Linked DNA regions of Homo sapiens. The protein of the gene in region 2 interacts with the protein of the main gene of each other region in a pairwise test. Each region holds a gene or a part of one and is shown on either strand. Other genes may lie near its edges.

Evidence for each region. Proteins that work in one complex are often made in the same cells at the same time.
Region 1: the proteins of VSNL1 (region 2) and SRL interact in binary tests that used the Homo sapiens proteins (3 or more experiments, as listed by UniProt).
Region 3: the proteins of VSNL1 (region 2) and FAM131C interact in binary tests that used the Homo sapiens proteins (3 or more experiments, as listed by UniProt).

Annotation. Positions count from the first base shown.
Region 1 is NC_000016.10:4,231,771-4,239,566, forward strand, and holds part of SRL (sarcalumenin isoform 1 precursor), read right to left. Parts: intron 1-7,796.
Region 2 is NC_000002.12:17,543,304-17,551,099, forward strand, and holds part of VSNL1 (visinin-like protein 1), read left to right. Parts: intron 1-7,796.
Region 3 is NC_000001.11:16,070,342-16,078,333, reverse strand, and holds the start of FAM131C (protein FAM131C), read left to right. Parts: upstream 1-4,682; 5' UTR 4,683-4,891; coding exon 4,892-4,913; intron 4,914-7,992.

The DNA of each region.
Region 1 (7,796 bases), on a different chromosome or scaffold from region 2:
TCAGGAAACTGGAGGCAAATATCAAGTTGCCGCATACTCACAAGAGTGATAACCTGTCATTCTTGTCATAGTCCTTTTAAGCTTAGAAAGTATCTATTATCAAAAAATATTTTAAGCATCCGATAGCCATTTTCTTATTATAGTCACGAAACAGCCCCATGCTGGAAATAGAGCAAGTATCATTATCCCCATTTTATGGGTGAAGAAACAAACGCAGAGATAGTCAGGGACTTGGCGGCTGATTTGTGACAAAACCAGCATTTGCTCTGCCCCCGGGTTCCGGTGCTCCCGCTGGGCCCCACCCCAGGCCAGCCGCTCTGCCTCTGTGTAGACAGCGCCAAGCAAGGAGGGACTTGGTGGAGTGCTCACCAGCTTAACTACCAATTCGGAAAGGAAACAAAGGCAGGAAAGGAGGTGGGCTGGTGTCTTGGGAGCCCGAGGCCAGGATGGTCTCCCCAGGACAGGGTGAGTACTTGACACTTCTCCAGTTCTTTTCCAGATTCTTCCCAAGTCCTAGAGAGCACTCCCGGTCTCTTGATCTCCTTGGGTAAGTGCAAGAAAAATAAGTAATCATCTACTACTTGACACTAAGTAATCAACAAATTGGCTAGAGGCCTCTCTGGTGGACACAGGGACACAGGTGGTCACATCAGGCCCTAAATGCTGTGTAAGTTGGAGGCCCATCAGTGGCATGGCTTCCAAAGGAATGGCTTGGTCAAGCCTTTACCTATTGCCATCTAGACGAATTTTTTTTTTTTTCAACAGAGTCTTGCTCTGGCACCCAGACTGGAGTGCACTGGCACAATTACAGTTCACCGCAGCCATGACCTCCCGGGCTCAAGAGATCCACCTGCTCCAGCCTCCCAAGCAGCTGGGACCACACGCATAGGCCATTATGCCTGGCTAATTGTTGTATTTTTTTGTAGAGATGGGGTTTCTCCATGTTGCCCAAGGTACTCTTGAACTCCTGCGGTCAAGGGATCTACCCGCTTCAACCTCCCAAAGTGCTGGGATTGCAGGCAAGAGCCACCGTGCCCAGCCTAGGGGAAATTCTATGGGAGAAAACTGAGCTGGCCTAGGTCCTAGCCAAATGACTACCTGAAGGAGGACCGGGGGCTGCAGTTTTGGCAGCAATCCAGTGGTGGGGGGAGGCGGGGGCTCCCAAACCCCGGGACTCTCCCCTGAGCTCCCAGCACAAGCCACTTCCTACAAGCCCAGAACTCCAGGCCAGACTTTGTCTGCACCTGTTTGAGCTCAGAGTACAGTCCCTGCTCTAGAAGCATCCAAAAATATCTGAGAGAGCGGGGAATAGGGAGGGGCTATCTGGAAGAAAACAGGCTAGAGTCTTCAGAGGGCTGAGAGAAAGAGCCACTTGGCTCAGCATTCAAGGTTCTTCCCAACTGGCCCCAACTCATCAGGGTGGCCTAATCTCCCCCGAACACGAGCCCCACACTCTAGCCAGAGCTAGTCTCATCCTGTCCCTGGCAGTGCCGTGCTCTGAGCTTCCTCACCTCCTGGCTTTTGTCACCATCTTCAGGTGTCTCTGCCTGCACAAATCATCTGTCATTCATTAGACCTTGTTGACTGCCTTGAATGAGCCAAGCGTCATGCTACACTGTTCGTGATGAAATACGGGCAAATTAAACAAAGGCACAGCTTCCACCCTCCCCAAGCTGACCGTCCAGCAATTGTCCCCTCCCTGCACGTTGGGCTGAAACCCTGTCCCTCTGCACAGCCAACCTTCCCAACCATCTTCTGAACTTCAACCAGAGTGAGCATAGACTGCTGGTGGGGGGGTGTTAGTTACATTTTTTTTTCAGTGCGTGTCATCTCCCCAAATAGAAGGTCAGCTCCTGAGGGCAGAGACACAACTCATTCCCGCCTGCACAGTGCAGCTGGCCAGGACCTCACAGGGCTGACAAGGGGCTGAGAGATGGGCCTCACAGGGAGGGACCCACAGCTGCCTTACACCTCTCCCTGCTCTCATCAAATGCCCCACTCTCTCTGCTCCCTGCAGTCTCTGAGGCATCTGAGTCTGAGATTGTGCCATACCCTCATGCTTCTATTTGATCCTTTTGTGCCTTCATCCCTAACCCGAGTCCATCCTGCTTTTCCAGCCTAAAGGGGGACTCCCTTTAGGGAGCATCTCTCATTTCTTCAGGATTTGGCACCCAATCTCTCCTCTCCTGCCAGGGCTGGCCATGGCCTGCATTCATTCTGTGTTCTCTCTCTCTTTTTTTTAAATATGGGGTCTCGCTCTGTTGCCCAGGCTAGAGTATAGTGGTACAATCTTGGCTCACTGCAACTTCGACCTCCTAGGCTCAAGCCATCCTTCCACCTCAGCCCCCTGAGTAGCTGAGACCACAGTGTACCCACTACATCCAGCTATTTTTAAAGTTTTTTTGTAGAGACAAGATCTCACTGTGTTGCCCAGGCTGGTCTGGAACTCCTGGGCTCAAGCAATCCTGCCGCCTTAGCCTCCCAAAGTGCCGGGATTACAGGTGTGAGCCACTGTGCCTAGCCTATTAATTAAATTTAATAAATTATTGCTTTAATTCTGATTTAATTTGGTGCTTTCATTCTGATTCTGCCACCTTCCCTGAGATGGGGTGGCTCAGCAATTGCTGCTCTGGGAGTCCCTCTGTGACAGACAATGAGGAAGTCACAGGCAACAGGCATGTCCCCAAGGTAGGGGGGCAGCTGGGACCTTGACTCCGAGTAAAACCACCTTCAGGGCTGCAGAGGGATGAGGGAGGCTGAAAATAGATGGAACAGGACTTCTCTGATATTAGAGAAGGATGACAGCACAGGCTGCCGCCATCGAGGAAATGAATCAGTCTCTAGAAACTCAGTTAAATCCGTCCCATTTGCTAAACTGCACCCACCCCTGTCACGTCCTACTGAGGATACCCAGCTAGGGATGAGCACAGGGGACTGGGACCTCTCGAGCACTGGGCAGATCATGCTTAGCAGCCGTGCTCGCCATGGCTCCAATTCATTCATTCATTATTTCACCCATTCAGGACCCAGAAGAGAAACCCCTGCTATGTAGCTCAGTCCCTCTGCGCTCAGAACCGGTGAACTATTTACCACCTCCGTGTTGAGATTTAGGAACTTTGGGTGAGACCTTGCCTGCCAAATGGGAAATTCCATCTTAGAGATATCTTCCTTGAGCTGAAATCTTCTGAATCCTCTGAAACACAGACAGACTTGAGCAAAGTGCCCATCTGTGCTGCGAGTCACCAGCCTCCACTGCAATGAGCTGCAGCTCCCCCCATGACCAGTGTCTTGGTAGCAGGGACAGGGGTCGGAGCAGGGGCCCAGCCTGAGTAGGGAAGGGAGACCCAAGAGGGAATGAAGGAGCCAAATAGGGCGGAGGCAGACTCTGAAGATCAACTTTTAGCTCTAAGAAGACAGGTGAGGCCAGGGGCGAGGTCCCTGAGAAGACAGGACTCCCAGAGCAAACTCGGGAGAGAACAGAAGCCAGCCCACCACCTTGAGCCAAAGTGAGTCCTCATGCCAAAGTGAGTCCCACCAATGGGACACGAGAGGGCACAGGCCTCACAGCCAGGAACACATCATGAAGGGGACCTGAGGCTGGACTCCCATCCCCAGTCCACAAAGAAGAATGAAAACCAAAGTCAGCTGCGTGCAGTGGCTCACACTTGTAGCCCCATCACTTTGGGAGACCAAGGCAGGAGAATCACTTGAGCCCAGGAGTTTGAGACCAGCCTGAGCAACATAGTGACATAGTGAGACCATGTATCTACAAAAAATAAAATTAGCTGGGTGTGGTGACACATGCCTGTAGTCCCAGCTACTCTGAAGGCTGAAATGGGAAGATCACTTGAACCCAGGAAGTTGAGGCTGCAGTGAGCTATGATTGCACCACTGCACTCCAGTCTGGGAGACTAAGTGAGACCTTATCTCAAAAAAATAAATAAAAATTAAAAAAAGAGAGAGGACTACAGTCATCATCTGAGTAACTCAGGCCACATATCCACCGCGCCAATTTCCACTTAAAAAAGCTAGCCCTGGGCCGGGCACGGTGGCTCACGCCTGTAATCCCAGCACTTGGGAGGCCGAGGTGAGCGGATCTCGAGGTCAGGAGATCGAAACCAGCCTGACCAACATGGAGAAACTCCGCCTCTACTAAAAATGCAAAATTAGCCGGGCATAGTGTAGTCCTGGCTACTCGGGAGGCTGAGGTGGGAGGATTGCTTGAGCCCAGGAGGTGGAGACTGCAGTGAGCCTTGATCAACCACTGCACTCCAGCCTGCGCAACAGAGTGAGTCCCTGTCTAAAAAAATAAATAAAAAGAAAACGTAAAGAAAAATATTTTCTCTACCTCAGTAAACCCATCTGCTTTTAAGTTACTGTTGCTGGCCTTTATTTATCCCAAACTTAATTTTTAAAGGTTTCTATGTCTAAAGATGTTGCCTCCTCATCCTCACTAAATACCCTCAAACCCTCCTCATTGGTCAGTGACCTCCTGGTTGTCAGAAGGAACAGCTCCTCTCCCTCAGCATCTCTGTGATATTTAATCCTGCTGGCCACTCGCCCTTCTTCTAGAAGACCTGGGCTTGCAGGTCACTGTCTCTTCTTGGGTCCCTTCCTATCTTTCTGAAATTCATTTATCTTCTTCCTCTTCCTACTCCTCAAACTTAGCGTTGATCAAGGACTGGTCCTTGAATCTTTGTCTCTCCCTGGTACAGCTCCATGGGTGACCTCAGAGCCTCCCTCTCATCTTTACGTAAATGAATCTCACTCCTAAATGCCCTGACCTGACTTCCCTCCTAAGCTCCAGTCCTGCCTAACCCCTGCCACCTCCTTCCAGATGCCCCACGAGTAACCAATCTTCATAATGACCCAAACTGAACTTTTTTTTTTTGAGACAGAGTCTTGCTCTGGTGCCCAGACTGGAGTGCAGTGGCATGATCTCAGCTCACTGCAACCTCTGCCTCCCGGGTACAAGCAATTCTCCTGCCTCAGCCTCCCGAGTAGCTGGGATTACAGGCGCATGCCACTACGCCCGGCTAATTTTTTGTATTTTTAGTAGAGATGGGGTTTCACCCTATTAGTCAGGCTGGTCTCGAACTCCTGACCTCGTGATCTGCCCTCAGCCTCCCAAAGTGCTGGAATTACAGGTGTAAGCCACTGCACCCAGCCGTGAACTTTTTTTTTTTTTTGAGACAAGGTCTCACTCAGTTGCCGAGGTTGGGGTACAATAGTGCCATCACAGCTCACTGCAGCCTCAGCCTACCAAGCTCAAGCGATCCTCCTGCCTCAACCTCCCAAGTAGCTGGGACTACAGGTACCCGCCATCATGCCCAGTTCATTTTTTCTATTTTTTGTTTTATTTTCTATGTTGTCCAGGCTGGTCTCAAACTCCTAGGCTCAGGCCATCCTCCTGCCTCTGCCTCCGCCTCCCAAAGTGCTGGGATTACAGGTGTGAGCCACTTCATCCAAGCCCAAACTGGACTCAAAATCTGTTCCTCTCTCTTATGTTCCCAGTCTATTTTTCTGGCAAGATCATTCTCCCAGTGACCTCAATGGAACCTGTAAGGGCCCCCTCCCCTGGCCTGGCTCCCAAGCTGGGAAGGCCAGGGATTCTACACCAGCTGTCAGCTGGGTCCACCCCTTCTCTCCACTCCCAACCCCTCGCCCAGGTCCACACTCCCTCACCTACCTCTCTGGCATGGCTGACTAATCAGTCTCCCCCTCCCTACTCTTCCTACAAACAACTGCCAGACGGATCTTCCCTGAGCCCTTGGTAGTGACCCGCTGCCCACAGAGCAAAGCCCTGCTTAGCCTAACAAGGCCCTTCACACTTCAGCCCCACCCCTGCCTTCCGAACACGTCCCGCCACCCCACTTCCATCTGCCCGCCTTCATGCAAGACAGAACAATGCTCCCCTTCCCTGGGTCTCACCAGAGCCCCGTTGCTCTGGCACCGTGAGTTTGCTCATCTTGTTCCCTCAACTCAGAATTCCCTTCCTGCCATCTTTCTGTTCTGAATCCTGCTTTCTTCAAGGCCCAGCTCAAATATTCCCTCATCCGTAAAACCTTTTCTGATCCGATCCACTCAGCTCAGGATGGTCTCCTCCCTGCCTTCAGCCCCACCTTGCTTTTCCTGTGCCTCCCCAGTGACACTGATGTGTGTCCCATTTGACTAGATTCAGCTACGTGCAAGGGAGAAGACGCCTCCTCTCCCCTACTGGACTATAAGCACTGAGGACAAAATGCCTGTCTCAATTCCCCTAGTACCATACTTCAAAAACAGCAGGGATGCAGCAAACGAGGGATGGGTTCACGAATGATGGAACACGTTGAGGTGTTTGAATGACAGGGTTGCACATACGAGCGATGTTTACAGGTAAGGACTTATGCTGCGATGAGGCCTGGATTTGGGTTTGGAGCAGGGCATGTGCCCAGGAGAGAGAGCTAAGTAAGCCCAGGCGCTCCATCCCACAGCCATGGCCCTCCCTGCTCCCCACTCCCCCAGCCACCTGCCTCATTCCAGCCAGGATGCACAGGGCCTAGCTCTGTCCTTAGCCTGCAGGCCAGGTCAGAGAACGGAAACAGCTGTCCCCCTCCTGAGTCCATAGGCTGACTCTCCCCAGCCCACTACACCCAAGCAGGCATCAAACGGCCAGCTAGATGCTACCGGCCTCATCTGGACCTCCCTCTGGGGGATAAGCGGGTAAAAGCACTGGCCAAGGAGTGGAAAGGACTGAATTCCAGCTCTGGCCTGCCATGAACTCACTGTTTGACCTTCACTGTAATACCTGGATGTAGGAAAAAACCAGCAGTTCCTAAACAGCAGTTCCACAGGCCACCATGCCCGGTGCCACTTTTTTTTTTTTTTTCCTTGAGACAAGGTCTCGCTCTGTCACCCAGGCTGGAGTCAGTGATGCAATCACAACTCACTGCAGCCTGACCACCCAGGTTCATGTGATCCTCCCCCCTCGGCCTCTCAAGTAGCTGGGACCACAGGCATGCACCCCTACACCGAGCTATTTTTTTTTTTTTTTAGAGACAGGGTCTCACTATGTTGTCCAGACTGGTCTCAAATTCTTAGCTTCAAGCGATCCTCCCACCTTGGGTTCCCAAAGCGCTGGGATTACAGGTGTGAGCCACTGTGTCCGACCACCGTGTTACCTTCTTGAGGGATGTGTTCATTAGCAAGACCCAGTCTAGTGCATTCCAGGCTCACTGTGGGACCAGATGTCCCCTACAGGCTTGCCCGGCTGCACCAAATGAGGAGTCAGGGAACCAGCTGTGGGGAAAAGGCTTCTGGGGTCTGTTCTCTCCCCAAGACCCCTGAGCTTGCTACATTTTCTCAGCAGCCCTGCCACAGCTAGGCTGCCCTGATGAGGAAACTGGAGTGCTGGCCTCTTTCCAGAAATAACCAGCCAGGGGTGGGAGAGAAAGGGGCGGGGAAACAGCTTCCTGACCGTCACTGCACCCTTGTCTCACATGGCGGGCACTGAGCTGTGGGCACTCACAGAGGGGCAGCCCCAGCATGCACCAGCCCCTTGCCATTGGGGTGGCCGGGTGGGGCCAGGGCAGATGGGCAAGTCTGAAGCTAGGGCTGGAGGTGGAGGAAGGATGAGATGGACAGGAATCCCCAGATCCCCAATCTCCGTATCAAGCAACAAGAGGGACAACAGGAAGCAAAGAGGTCCCAAATTCTGCCTTTAGCAGTAAACACCAATGGCTTAAACCCGAAGAAATGAAATGCTTTCTCAGCAGACTTCGCTCTCCAGGGAAACCAAAAGCATAGCTCTTCGCCCT
Region 2 (7,796 bases):
AGAACTGCCCAGGGCCCATTTCCATCTTTCCCTGCTGTGTTCCCCAAAATCCTTCAGGGAATCCAGCCTTCAAAGACACTGCAGTTACATTCCCACTTTTCTCCCCATCTGTCCTCCTCCAAAACCACTGCAGCTGCAGAGATTAGGACTTCGTGGAGTGAGGAAGCTGCAGGGTTTCCAGAGTGGACTTTGCCAGCTCACCTCTGGCTCCTAGGAGGCAGAACCCAAATTAGAGATGCCTGTCTCCAGCCTTCCTGGAAATCCTCCAGATAAAGCCACCTGCGGAGAAGGGAAAGGGAAGGGACAGAAAGACCGAAGAAGGCTTGACTGGTTTAACCTGAAGTTGTGCTATAGAGGAGAGTAGTGCAGCTTTTTCATCCTTTAAAGCTTTTAAAGCATTTGCATAGCTTTTCCTCAGGCAGATCTTTTGTTTTATTCTTTCGCAGTTTCTGCTCTCATCTTGCTGGATGAGGGCTGCAAAGCAGACAAGGTGACCCGCCTAACTGGCCTTCCTACCTTCCTCCTGTTTTTTCTCCTTTTTTTCCTCTTTTGCTTTCTCCATTTCTTCCTCATTTTCTCCCTTTCTTCCATAAAAATTCTCTGAGTGCCTATACAATAACATTCTATGCCTCCTAAATATAGTCTGGGCCTTCCTGTTTCTTCTCCAAAAATGTAATCTCCCAGGCACTCAGAAAGATACTCACAACTACCACAAATGGGGAAATGCTAAGGATTCTTACATGAAAAAAGCTGAGGCATTAGGAAAGGAGGAGCTTGATGATTGGAATGCAAGGCCAGAGGAAGTCCCACTTGGGATCTCTTTCTCATTTCAAAGAGTAGGTAACTACTCTTGGAAGTTGTTGAAGCTTTTAAGAAGCAAAGTGGTGAGTTTCTCAACACCTTTACCAATTAACAATTTAATTTAACCCCTCCTCTGTTGGTAAATCTTTACAGAATTGGGATGAGCTCTGTCTTGGATGGAGTCTGTTTCTAACAAATGCTCTCGGGTTAGTTAGATGTTACCTGATCTTGCTGATATACCCATTCATATACCCTTGCAGAATACCCATTCCAGGGTATTCTGAACACCAGATAGATAGCCTTTGCAGAGATGCGGAGATTTGTAGTTGCTAAGTGCCCCGCTTTGGTTTACTACACTGTGAATCACCTCCCCATTACATGTGAGTCACATGTGATAGGATTACAGCATCAGGAATATTGTCTTGGGCAAGCTATAGATTTTCTATTTGGGTTGCATGTAGTTATGAATTCCAAACATTGTGGAGAGGCTCCCTAGGGAGTTTCACAGAATAACAGTTCAGCATCAGTATCAAACATATGGTTTCCTAATTGATAACAGCAATATATTTTCACTGTTCTCAAGGTCTTTTTCTTTGTTTTGAGTGATTTCTATGCTCCTAAAATTAGTGATTATTTAGGAAAATAGGAAGGCTCTCTCCACAGAAATGATCACATTTAATTAATCTAAACTGACAGTGTCCATCTTCATTATGCATAGTGAATATAAACATTAATTTTCCTAAAGTATCAAATGGTACAGAGATATATTAAAGAATGATTGATAGTTTTACTATCCCAATGGTTAATTCATATGACTAATAGAACATATGAGCTGGACAAGATCCATATAAGTCACCTAATCCATCCCTCCAATCCATTTTTAAAATAGTATCTTCAGGAAATTTTTTTATCTTAAAGACACCCCTACAATATGAATTCGTTGTCTGGAAAAGCAATGATTTTAATGACCTTTTAAAATATTTCCACAATATCTGTACAATGTCTTTTATAGTGGAAACTCAATATTTGTCAATTAAATATTTGTTCTAATAAGAATCAGTTGCATGTACCTTGTTAATTATATCAAAAATTAAATTTCTACTGAAACCATGTGCACAATTAACATTTCTTTAAGTATCTTTGTTAGTAACGAAAAAAACTAGATTAAAAATTATTTTATACTTGAATGACAGAGAGAGACCCTATCTCAAAAAAATTATTTTATGATTTATTTTTTGTAAAGATATTAAAGCATTATATTAATACCTCTAAGAGTGCTTTAAAATCTATTTACATGTTTATCCTTTTTGTCTCTTAATAAGTAAAAAGATAAAGTATTTTTACCTATTTACAAGAATAAGAATATTGATAAGTAAAAGAGGGAATATAAATCTAGACTGTGGTAGCTATGTGCTCCACTTAGATCATGCTCTCTTGAGCTATGGAATTATTTTAACATGTTCACCCTGTGAGGGGACCACATCATTGCATTTCTCATTTACAGTTTGTTTCTAAAGGTAACTTATGCACTCTTAAGTGAATCAAAATAGTTTGCGTTGCTCCCAGCTTAAATCATTGAGAACTTTTACTAATGGAAGGGTCTTGGGGATGCTTTAGAAACTATTTAATGAATGAAACAGAAATGGAATAGTAAATTACTGAGGAATCTTCAAAGAGGTTTGACACTTTAATCATAAGGTGCCTGTGAATATGTTCAAGAGCTGTTCTATACCCCTATCAGCTAACTTAAAGTATGCAGATTGGGTAATTTTCACAATTCTTACACTTTCTCTGGATTTCTCCACCTCTTTACTTAATTTACTGCAGTCCTAACACAGACGACCTGCTGTGTAACCATCAATTGTTTATTCTTTTTTTTAATGCATGGTAATTCCAAGGACTTACTGGATTATTTCCAGGTGAGCATTCTATTTCCTTTTGTTCTAAATTACAATTAAGACTTGGAGTACTCTCATTCACCAAGTGGTCTTCAAGCTCAATGTACCTAATACAATAATTACTGAACTTTTTGTAGAAAGTAGATCTCTTTTACTTAAAAACGATTTTATTTTTATGAGGCATTGCTTATAAAAGGCAAAGTGTTAACAAATCAGTTAAATTTATCTGCAATTATTATCGATGCATAGAATGAATCCTATTCATTGCTGCCCATATAATACTTTTCTGAAAATAGAAATCTCTCACTTTTTAAGTATACTTTTTCCTCCTTTTTTTGGATTTTGTTTATTATTTCTTAGGCTCTGAAAGACTATGAACTTTTGAGGAGCTTTATGTAAATAGTTTTTTGTTTTTTTTGGCAAATCATTAACATGTTAAACGTACTTTGAAACCTGGGTGAATTTTTTCTAATGTAAATCAACAGATCCTAATATTTCTGTTATCTTATATTTTAGAATCTTTTTGCAGTTCAAGAGTTCTTGAAATAGTAAACGCTGGTGTTACAGGAGACTAGTGTTTTATATTTTGCATTGGTTTTAGTAATTTGTGATTGGCGTGTTTATTTCTGATTTCTTGAAGTCCAATTTTAAATTTTGAGTAAAATGTCCCGTTGGAGACCCATCAAGCATTATTAATAAAGTTGAAATGCTTATTAATATAATATTTTGCTTTTAATGTATCAAGTAGTGCTGCACAAGGCTCACTTTCAATTAGCAAGTTCTGTTTGCTGAAATTCTTGGCATTTGATGTTACGAGTTAATGGAAGACTATCAATTTTGTTAATTCCAGAAGTTCAAGAGTTTCTGTAACTTTATATAAAGTGCTTGATGTTTTTTGCTTTCTTGTTCTTATGAAAAATTTTATGAAAAATGAAAGGAAATTGTGAAGTAAACTTAAATCCTATGTATAAAATTGTTATTCTTTTAAATGATTATAAAGGTATTCATTCTTGAGTGAGATGAAAACCACTAAACTATTAGTCTTTCCTCATTTTTAGTTTGTGAATGGGAAACTTCTAACCATGATTTCAGTTGGCTCAGAGAAAATTATGAGAGGAAGTATAAAGTTCTTCAGCTAGGTATATTAATACTTAGACAAAAATTCCCAGGGCCATAGTTTATTAGTTCTGTGACCTTGAATAAATTGTTTAAACTCTCAGCCTCAGTTTCTAATAGTAATTCACAGGATTCTTGAACAGAAAATAGAAGATTATATATGTAAAGAATATAATGGCTTATTATTGAAAATGTACAATAAATAATAGTTATCCTTATCATTAGCATCACTTTAATCAGAAATCAATAGCTCATAAACCACTTTGGTCACTGAGTTGAAGCAATCTCCGTTCATTGCACAACTTCTAAATAAGGAATCAAATAGTGAACAGTTTACGGTGCTTACCCTACCTTATAAAACTTAGATTTATTGAGAAAGTGTGCCAAGCTCTGTGTAGTCACTGCAGAACAAAATTAAGTAAGATACAATCCCAGCCTTCAAGAATTTATGCCTAATGGAGAAGACAGATAAATGCAATTTTAAGTCAAGTGAAATGAAAAGGTGGTATGGATGCACAGAATTATTTCAGAATGAAATAAATCCCTGCACTAAGACTTCAGATTTTCTCTTATTCCTTCTTTAAATGCATCCCCTTTCCATTATGCCTTTACTTTATCATCATCACCCTACTATATAATGCCAGCATATAATTGAGTCCAGAATATGGAAGTGAAAGGAAATTTTTGAGTTTATTTCCTTATTGGATATATTTTATTATCTATGAATTACTGTTCAGTGTAGCTAAATAACACGTTTCCCTTCTCCCCCAACCTGCACTCACAGTTGATCACTGAACTTCAATAAAAAACGTTTCAGGAGCTCCGCTTTTTTGGTTAAATATTACACTGTGATACTTCTATCTTTTAATACTTTCCCAAAACAGGATTTCTATCTGATACTCTCCCCACACCTCCTCTATTTTTCCAACCCATTTCGCGACTAATCATTCAATGTGTGTCTGTGGGAAGAGTCTCCTATGAGCTACTCTTTCATTCTTTTCTCCCAGGCTTTTACAATAAAGAAAAGATACCTTCCAACTGCTCTTTCCTACTGAACCAAAAACAATGTTTCTAGCCCCTCTCCACATTTCCCCCACCCCCACACACATCAAATCCAAAGTGACCTTATTGTTTTTAACTCCTCAAAGAGCATTTTCAATTTCCTTCAGGTTTTCCCCCCTTCTTCCTCTATTTCCTGCCCAATTTCCTAGGAAATTTCAGGCATATTTCTAATCTGTAGATAAAAAAGGACATCTTTTTCTCTTTTTGAAGTCTACAAAACTTGCACCTAAATTCTGAGGTTTCTTTGTATAATAGGACAACTCCTGGATGATTCATAGAATTGAGTAGGGTTATTGTTCTAATTAATCTTTTGAGTTTATTTTCTCACTGGTGAAAATAGGGATAATGTAGTTATCTTATATGAATGTTGAAGTCCTAATATAGTGATGTGTATATAGCACCTGAAAGAGCTTGGAATATAAATAATTCCTTCTCCCCCTGCACACCCCAATCTTCTTTCCTGCCCACATCTTATCTTTTCTGACCACCTTCTCAGTTACATTTCACCATTTCTCCTTGGCTAGTGTTCTAGGTGTCCTGCTGCATTTTTTCCAAGTATATCTTCCTAATTGGCTCATAGTTAAATAATAGGTAACATAACACATATCCCAGGTAGCATGGTGAGCGCAGTCCTAGAAAGCGTGTGCTAACTGAATCAATGCCCTAGCTTAGGCCTGTGTTCCTGCATCTGTTTAGAAAACCTCTTTCATTTGTTTAAGACATGTCTTCTGCTAAACTTTTCAGAGCCTCTAGTGACTAATGTTCAGTTGATGAACAGTCCTCTCCCACTCCAGTGATTCTGTGGTGCTCTTCATAAATAATGTCAGAGGACATCTGACAGTGCTTAATTATCTTCTGATTTTTATCCTCTTTTTTCCATTACCTTTTCCCCCAAGGTGCCCTGAGCACCTGTTAAACACTTCAGGAGACGCCTATGCCTCAACTCTTATGCAGGATCTGGTGATATCACTTGCATATCTTTTGTTTATCACATAAATGGTTCTCAAATAACACCAAATAAATGGCAGAAGAGGGAGGCCATACACACAACACATGTTGCAGAACATGTTCAGATCAGGTTTAGCCTATCAGAACCTTCATTTGCTGAGTGTTTGTAGAAGTGTGCACTAATGCAGATTGACCAAGTGCAGAGAATGGTACTCAAGGTAGGGCTGAGGTAGAGATGCACATACATCCAGATAGATAGATACATACATACACACATACATGATATATACACAGTATGTTCAATGTACTGTAATAGATTGTTTTGTATAGTTTTAAGCAAAATATTTAAGAGTAATAGCTTCATAACAAATCATTACTTACAAGACAGCATTAAAAAGGAAGGCCTATTGAAATTTCTTCATTCTAGATCAAGTGCATAATTGAAAGGGAGGATGGTTTAAATTTGGTGGTAAGAATACCTATCAGCGTTTTGGAAATATATCTTTACAGAAACAAAGAGTTTTTTGAAACACTTCTTTGGGGAAAAATGCTTACTAAATCCCACTCTTCGATATTCCCAGTGCTCATTTTCATGTTAATAATAAGTCTGAGTGGTCCTGTGGTAAAGACCACTGAATCTGTTTAGCTTTGATTAATTGTATATTTCCAAACCTGTTTGTACAGGAAACTTATGTGAAAATATACTTATCAACATTTCATTGTTGTTCTGAAGAACTCAGTTAGAAAAACTGCTTTAGAAAGACAAAAGCTGAACTATGTAATAGAAAGTACACAAACTTAGTAGTCATTAAATGTGTGTTTTAGGCATCACACCTGTGCTTTAGGCATCATAGTGTGTAGCTGTGGAAGACTTACTTCTCTGAGTTTTAGTTTCCTCATGTGAGAATAACTATGATATTACCTACCCTTTGTAGTTACGAGATATTGTGAGCATACTTCACAGACTGCATAATAGCATGTGACAATAAAAAATTTATTGTTCATATCATTCAACTTTAGAATTTTAGATTTTAAAAAGGTGATTTATAATCAAATTATTGATCTTCTGCAAATTATTATATTATGGTTATATCTGCTAAAATATGTCCCCTGTCTTCTCCCCACCCCTACTCTAGGTCCTGGGAAAGAATGATAGATCTATGATAACTAGGTCTTCACAGTTAAATTGAAAAAATGATTTTGAAGTAAAATAATCTGGAAGGAAAAGCCTAAATTATGGAAGGTTTGAGACACATCTGTATCGTTTAAATTTGCCTCTGGATTTCTCATGCTCTGGTTGTAGAACTTGAGCCCACAGCCATTTCTCAGTGGTGTGAACATGTCTTGGCTTCCAAAGAGACCCTTGTGGAAAGAAAAGCAACCACAGTCAAGCTCACGTGTTTGCTCTAGCAAAGAAGCTTTGGAAATAAGATTTTCATCCTACTGGGGTTAAGAGAAGCCCATGAGAGTAACTGGGACTTCCCTTCCAGGAATCAGCATGCATATACAGACCCAAATAATGTGAGTAAGGACAGTAAGACCAACAGGAGAAACTAAAGAGACCCACATATGCATGCAAACACAGGTACTCTGTCTTGGATAAGCTCTTGAACTCATGAACAGAGATGAGTTCTCTTCAAGGACTATGGAAATCACTTTGCAAGAGCTGTTCTGATTATGAAAATCTGAACCTTACTTAGATATCCTAACCCAGTCATCCTAAGGGAATGCAACAAAAAGTTGCTTCTCAGTCCTCTTAGCACATCTGAACACATAATCACTGTATACATGCCAACTCTCGCATAAAACTGGAAATTTCTTGAGGGAAGAAATCATGTCTGATACATGTCTAAGTCCCCTTTGGAGAGCTGTACCACTGAGGCCAGCAGAATAGGTGGAGCAGTAAGTCAACTGTGCATTGACCCATCAATAAATTGTGGAGTTTGGAACTTCCCAGTCAGGAGTTGTTAA
Region 3 (7,992 bases), on a different chromosome or scaffold from region 2:
GGGTGAGGCAGGGAGATGACCTGACACCCAACTCCAGCCAGCAGCCCCCAGTCCTGAGCCTGGAGCTGAAAGTGGGCCCATTCTGAGGTCAGCCTGTGGCCTTCTTTCTCAGCCTCCACCAAAAGGCCCCAAGTCCTGGCCCCTGGAACCCCCCAGGCAGGGCCAAACCTCCAGAGAAAGCAGGGAATTCTCCTGGAAACTCATGTGCACCTCCATCTCACCGAGAATGAATGGAGGGGGGATTTGGTTCACAGATGAGGAAACAAGAGATGTGCTTTGGACAAAGACCAGATTCCACTGTGAGGCCCTGCAGGAGCTGCCACCTCTATCCTCCTCCCAGGACCTGGTCCCTCCCTCCCACCTCCGGACCGTGGCCATGGCCTAGCCTCTCTGCCCAGCCCCTCTGCCTTGGAGGCCCTCCCCTCTCTCTACCTAGCTAAATCCCACCCATCCATCAGCTGTGGGCTCTGTCATTGTCATTTCTCTGGATGTGCCTTTCATGCCTGGGACCAGATGAAGTCCTCTTCTTCACTCTCAAGGGCTCCTTTCTGAGCGCTTCCAGGGCCGTGATTCTAAATGTATCTGGGTCATTATTGAATTAACACCTGCCTCCCCCACCAGAACCATAAGCTCCAATGAGCGGGGCCCTTGTCCGTCTCATTCATGTCGTAATCTCGGCACAGACTGCGCTTGTCACACAGCAGGTGCTCAGTGAGCAATTGCTGGATGAATGAAAGGTTGAATCAGTCCTGGCTGATTGAACCAGTCCCACGTTCTAGATATGGGACCTTGGGCAAGTCTCACTTTCTCGCATTCATTCAGCAAATACTTATTGAGCATGGATCTACTGCATGTTGGTTTTGGCACAGGATTCAAACCCAGATCTGACTGGCTTCTGATGCTGTTCTCTTTCTGCTTTTCAAGCTCTGCCCTTCTTGCGATGTTTGGGGCCTGGGGAAGGGGTCCAGCCCCACCCTCTCCCACTGGTCCCTGGATGTCATATATGCCAGTCTGCTGTGGCCCCCTGCCTCCAAACATTTGTGCACACAGAGCCTTCTACCACCAACAGCCCACTCGACCTTCAAAATCCGCTTCTAGGGTCACGATCGCCTGAAAGCCATCCCCATAGCCCTTGGCAGAAGTGACTCTCCTGTCACACACTTGGCTGGCATGGAGATGCAGCACTGTCCACCCTGACCCTGCGCTATTTATGCACGTGGCTCCTGCAGCGTCCCCGCCCCACCCCCAGGGCTGCCAGGGCAGGGCCTGGTCTGATTCATCGCTGTAATGGTTGGCCTTGATTAATCTTTCTCTGATCAAACCCTGCAGCAGCTCCTCTTCACGCTCCAGTGCCCAGCCAATCAGGGCCAGGCACTCAGGGCTGATGCATGCTCGGAGCAAGGCCACCGGAGTGGGGGTTCTGCCTGGATCCCCGAAATCATGGCAAGAGAATGGGCTGCTAGGTGTGAAGGGCACAGCCTGGACACTCTCTCCTCTCCACTCTAGCCCAGCAGCGGCATGGCAAAGAGGGCCCTGGGGGCGGGCAGTGGAAGGTCACAGGGCAGATGGGCTATGGGGTGAACTGGGAAAGGACAGTGTGGCCCCGGGGAGGACAACCACACAGCTCAGAGCTGTCTGGACATCGTCTACTTCAGCAGAATTCCAAGGTGAATGTGAGCGTGCAAGGAGAGCCACCGGCCCTGCGTGGCCTGGTCTCAGGCTGGTGCCAGGGCTGGGCTGAGAGGCAGGAGACCTGGGTTCTAGTCCCCGCTCTACCACTGATTTGCTGTGTGACCTTGGGCAAGCCCCTGCCCCTCTCTGAGTGCCAATGTGTACAAGGAGAGGATTGAGTCAATGTGGAACTGACCAGCATGAACACCAGAGGCTGGAGAGCCAGATCTCCAGCCCAGCCACATCTCTGAGTGGGTCAGCAAGGGACCCTAGGTGGGGCCACTGCCTTGCCCTGCCCTCCTGTCCCTGGCTTAGGCTAAATGGGGCACAGTGGGGTGACCAGGCATCCTCTCCCCTGTGAGCTGCCCTGTCGTCTTCTCAAGTGTCCCTCTCCCTGTCCCATCTACCCCCAAAGCTGTCAGGCTGCCAGCAGGGAGCATCAGCTGCCATGACGGAGCATCCTGCGTCATAGTGAGTCAGAGCCCTCCTTCCAAGCCAGATCCAGTCACTCCGTGACAGGAAGAAGAGAAGGACACCACTGCCTTTACAAGCCCAGGCCACACAGGACGGGACCCCAGAGCCTGGCACAGGCAGATCCGCCTTTCCTTCTCCACACAAGGGCAGGCACACACCTGGCACCAGGGCATCCAAGGTGATAGCAGGCTGTCCTTTCTGAGCCACCCTCTCCAAGGCCAGACCTGGAGGGTACAGTTAGGGGGGCTCTGAGCAACTGTGACTGAATACAGCGCTGACTCAAGGATTGGCACATTTGTCTTGTTCACACTGGCACACAGTAGGTGCTTTATATGCATCTGTTGAACGGAAGTTCTCAGACTTCCCTGTGGCTGTCGGGAAGCTGTGGTGGAGTAATAACACATCATACCTGTTTGTGTTCACTATCACTATTATTTATTTTTAGTCCTAAGTTGAGTACCTACTACGTGCCAGTGATTTTGCATATATTAATTTCATCAGCCCTCACAGCAATCCCACGAGGTGGGATTTTTACCCTAAGTTAACAGATGAAAAATCTGAGACTCAGAGAGGCGAAGCAACTTACCCAAGGTCGCACAGCTTGTGTGAGCTAAGCCCTCATTCACCCAGGTCTGCTGACACCAGGGCCAGGCACAGAACCGCTCTCCACCCGGACTTTACTGGGCAGAGAGCACCTAGCTTAGAGAAAGAGAAAGAAGTCAGCACCCACTCCCTGGCTCAGCTGCTCTGGCAGTGCGCCCTGGCCCAGATCCTGCCCCTTGAGAGGCCTCCAGCCCTATCCCACGCTGCTGCCTCAAACCTTATTCATTCTTTTTTTTTTTTTTTTTTTTTTTTGAAACAGAGTCTCACTCTGCCGACCAGGCTGGAGTGTAGTGGCACGATTTCGGCTCACTGCAACCTCCACTTTCCCGGGTTCAAGCAATTCTCCTGCCTCAGCCTCCCGAGTAGCTGGGATTACAGGCTTGTGCCACCACACCTAGCTTTTTATTTATTTATTTATTTTGAGATGGAGTTTCTCTCTTGTAGCCCAGGCTGGAGTGCAGTGGCATGGTCTTGGCTCACTGTACCCTGGGTTCAAGCAACTCTCCTGCCTCAGCCTCCTGAGTAGCTGGGATTACAGGCGCCCACCACCACCATGCCTGGCTAATTTTTGTATTTTTAGTAGAGACGGGGTTTCACCATGTTGGCTAGGCTGGTCTCAAACTCCTGACCTCAGGTGATCCGCCCACCTCGGCCTCCCAAAGTGGTGTGATTACAGGCATGAACTACTGTGCCAAGCCCACACCCAGCTAATTTTTTATATTTTTGGTAGAGACGGAGTTTCACCATATTGGCCAGGCTGGTCTCGAACTCCTGACCTCAAGTGATCTGCCTGCCTTGGCCTCCCAAAGTGCTGGGATTACAGGCGTGGGCCACCGCGCCTGGCCCCTCCTTATTCATTCTTCAAAACATTTCTCTGCTGCCACCAGTGAACCTGGCTGCCTCAACTGGAAAACAGACACAAGAGTGCCTGCCCTGCCTGATGCACAGGTGGGCATGAAGGAGAGAGCGAGATGCTATGTGTGAGTGAGGGTCTCAGACACTGACATTGAGTGCTGTGTGCATGGGAAATTTTGCTAAAGGATCTTCACACCTCAGGAGCTGGGATGTGTGTGTGTGTGTGTGTGTGTAAATGCAAGCGTGCTTCAATGTGAGTGTATAACTGTCATTGTGTGGGTGTGAGTGGGTATGTACACATGGGAGACTGTGTATTCATGTGTAGGTATGTGAGTGTGTGTGCGTGTATGTAAATGCAAGTGTGCATATATATGTGTGTGTATGACCATCAGTGTGTGAATGAGGGGTATGTACACATGGGAGAGTGTGTGTGTAGGTACGTGCGAGTAAGTGTGAATGACTACAGAGGCCGTCCAGGGCTGGGGAAAAAAACCTGTGCCTCAGTTTACTCTGCCCTAGACAAGCCCTGAGAGGCAGCCTTGCCCCCCTCTTCAACCATCGCTGGAGACCCTTCATCCCGCCGCCAGGCCACCAGCGCACTATCTACCCGCACTCTCTCTACCCCACCTCTGGGCATATATTATTTTGCATATGTTAATTTCAATAGCTCTGAATGAGGCGCTGACAGTCAAAAGTCGCTGAACTCACAGCTTAGGGCTCTCAGGCAAGGCCTCTAACTTCTGCGAGCCTCACTTTCATCCTCTAAAAATAGGCCCAATGGAACTGTTGTTCTTGCGCGCACCCCTCCTCGCTCCCAAGCCTTCGTGCCCAGTCGTCGTTGGTGTGGTTAAATTCATGTTGTTTACTTTGTGCCCCAAATGCCAGGAGTCTCCCCGCCCCCTCTGTCCCCTTCCCTGACCTTCAGCCCGGGCAACCCCAGGAGGTGGGGGAGCCCCGAAGGGACAGAGATGGCCCTCCCGCGCGCTGCGGCCACAGGTGTGCCCGAGCCTCCCGGCTGCGCTCCCCCGGGCCCCGCCCGCCGCGCCCCGCGGTGTCGCCCTCCCCTGGCAGCGGCGGGCACTGCGCGGGAGGCGGCGGCGCGAGGCGAGCCGGGCGCGGCGGCAGCAGGGACGACCCAGGCTGGAGCTGAGGCCGAGCTGAGGGCGCCCGAGCCCCCCGCCCCGCCCGTCCTCTGGCTCCGCAGCGCTCAGCCCCGGGCCCGCGGAGACATGAACGCCCCGCGGCCCCACGCACCCCGGGCGCAGCGGCCCGGCCCCGCGGCCCCGTGATGGGCTCCTGCGTGTCGCGAGGTGAGGGGGCCCGGCCGGGGGCGGGGGGATCGGGTGCCGGGGACCCGCGCAGTCCCCTCGCCGCTCGGAGACCTGGGGGATGGGGCTGGCGACCCGCCCTTCACGGCCCCGCCGCACCCCTGGGGACGCGGCGTCCTGAGGGGGACAGAGCTAGGGACGGTAGGGGGCGGGGGCAGCGCAGAGAGCGCACGTGCAGAGGTCACCGCATCCCCGCCCCAGTTTGCAGCCCCGCAGGTGACACGAAGCAGGGTCCCGTGCCGTGCCGCGCTCTCATCCCTACAGCCACACACCCCCTGCCGGGTGCCTGGGAACCAGCTCTGGTTCTTCCTGGCTTCCCGGAGGAACTGCGGGCACCGGGAGAACTAGCAGACCCTCCCTTTCCCACCCCTCCCCAAGACACAGGTCTTACCAGCTCACCCCCACAGCCCCTTCCCACGTCTTACCGGGTGCCCCCATCTGCAGAGCCCCTGAACCCTGTTGGCAGGAAAGGGTTAATGGTGGGGCACAGGTTATAAAGAAGGTTCCCCTGCCCCCTAATCCTCCTCCCCACCCCCATCCTTGGACAGGGGACAGAAGGGCCAGAGCACAGCTGATGTTCCCAGTTACCCCTGGGCCTTTCTCTCTGTGTCTGACCTGTCACCCTCCACTCTCCCCCACGTGGTACCCAAGGAGGTGGAGGGGACCTGCCCTTGCCTGGGGGCCCAGGGCAGGCCCCAGCCTCTTCTATCTGTGAGGAGGGGACACACAGTCTTGCACAGAGATTGGGGGATGGGCAGTTTGGTCTTTGGAGCCCCCTACCTCCACCCCCACCCATCACCACCAGCTTTCCAACAGGCTGTTGGGCAACATTTTAGACAAGCGATTGGGCTGAGCCCTTCTCCCACCTTGGTCTGTTCACCCCACAGTGGGATCAGGGGGGTGTGACTGGGAGTGGGGGTGGCTTTGGCCTTGGTTCAGGCTCTGCAGGCTGAGGCCAAACCCACTGACCACCACCACACCCATCACCCCTAGTAGCTTACCCAGAATAGAGGGGACCTTGTCCTGGGGGTATTGAGCAAGGAGCACAATGACCTTCCCCCATCCTCTGGACTCGAAGGGCTTCTGCTCAGGAGTTCCTGTGGGCATTCAGGTAAGTGGCTCAGGATGTCTCTGGGAGGTATCGGGGTGGAATCCCGGCTGGGGAAGGGGAAGGTACAGGGTCAGGCTGTGTGGGGTTCCTTTACTTATCCATGCATTAAGCTGATATTAACATGATAGCTGCCGTGTGCCAGGCACCGTGTGCATGCTGGGCATCCAGCAGCAAGGAACCCAGCACAGCACCTGGTACGGGAGGCCTGCAGCCTAGCGGGAGGGGAAGGAAGTTTGAAGAGTGAGGAGTGCTGAGGGTTCTTTAGGAGCACCAGGCTCCAGAAACCCCAAAGGTTCTAGGCAGTCTCTGGCTGGGGCCAGCTCCAGGTGGAGGGGATCTGAGTGTTTCCTCAGTGTCCCTTCCCCTTCACTTGGCCACCCCATATCAGGCACCTTGGGGTCCCAGCCCAGAAGGACTGGCCTTTGAGCTGAGAACCCACTGAGCATGGGACAGAGGCCGGGGAGGAAGAGACGCCTGCTAAGGTCACCCTGAGAGGCTGGGGCCCAGGTCCTCTGACCCCACACCTGGGGCTCCCTCCACCGCCCCCTCTGCCAGGGCTCTTTGGGGCCACAGCAGCCAAGATACGCTCTCTCCACCCTTCCTTCTGCAGCCTGGGCTTCCTCAGCGCCCCCCAGATCTAATTGTATAGTCCAGCCTTGTCCCCCTCCTGAGAGGACGGGGCCCCTGGCAGTCTCAACATGCATCCAGGAAAGTTGGGTTGAGGTGAAAGGAATATGGGGAGCCATGTGGGCAGGGGACAGCCAGGGTCCCAGAGACTCTGGGTGGCTGCATCACTGACCCACCCTGCCCTCTCCTTATCACTGATGCTCTCCGAGTGCATACTAGTCTGAAAGTTTTAGGCAGATAAAGCTAGTTTGGGTTATATATGAACACAGTCCCTATCTTACAAGTGGGAAAACTGAGGCAGAGGGCAGTGGAGTGACTTGTCCAGGGCCACACAGCTAGGATAGTATAAGCCAAGATTTAAACCATGGCATGCTGACTCCACAGCCTAGGGCCTCAGTCTCTGCACTCACAGCCAGCCCTCGGCCCTGGTGCCTGCACCTGTCTACTCTCCTGGAGCTGCAGGCTGCTGTGGGCTCCTGAGCCCCCCACCTGGCCCCTGCACCAGCAATCGATTGCTAATCATAGCCTCTGAGCGCTCAGTGCCTCCTAGGCCAGGTAGGCACTGCTACAGAAGGAAGGGTGGAGGGAGTGCGTCCACCCTTGGCCAAGGCCAAGGATTGCAGGCCTCAGGCTGATGCCCATACTGAGCCCAGAGCTTGCACCCAGCTGGGGCCACCCAGCCAAACCCCAAAACCTAGGTCAGGCCACACCTGGGAAAATCACCCCATCCCAGCATCGGCAGCAGTTAGCGTCTGCCTAGTTGGTAGAGAGGCTAGGAGTGCAGAATACGAAGCAGGGCTCCACCATTTACTAGCTCTGTGACCTCAGCAAGTGACTTGACCTTGTGTGTGTATCTCAGTGTTCCCATCTCTAAAATGGGAATTATAATAGTATTGATGTCATAGGGTTGCTGGGCGGACTAAATGGCTTAATTCATGTAAGGCATTCAGACCAGTACCCAACACATAGTAAGCACTCGTACATATTAGCTATTGCTCTCATTTTTACTTTTAATTTTAATATTGTATATATTATAATAGAGACAGGCTCTCACTATGTTGCCCAGGCTTATCTCGAACTCCTGGCCTCAAGCCACCCTCCCACCTCGGCCTCCCAAAGTGCTGGGATTACAGGTGTGAGCCACTGCACCCGGCCTTTAATTTTTATTACCTGTCTGTGCAGACAGCTAATGTGGGCCTTCATGGCTGGAAGGGGAAACCTACAGAGGTTTTAAGCCACATCCTGCCTCATGGGAAAGGCAGCGGGTGGCAGGCACTCGAGGTGCTGAGGACATTGAGAAAGTGATTGGGACCAGATTAAGGC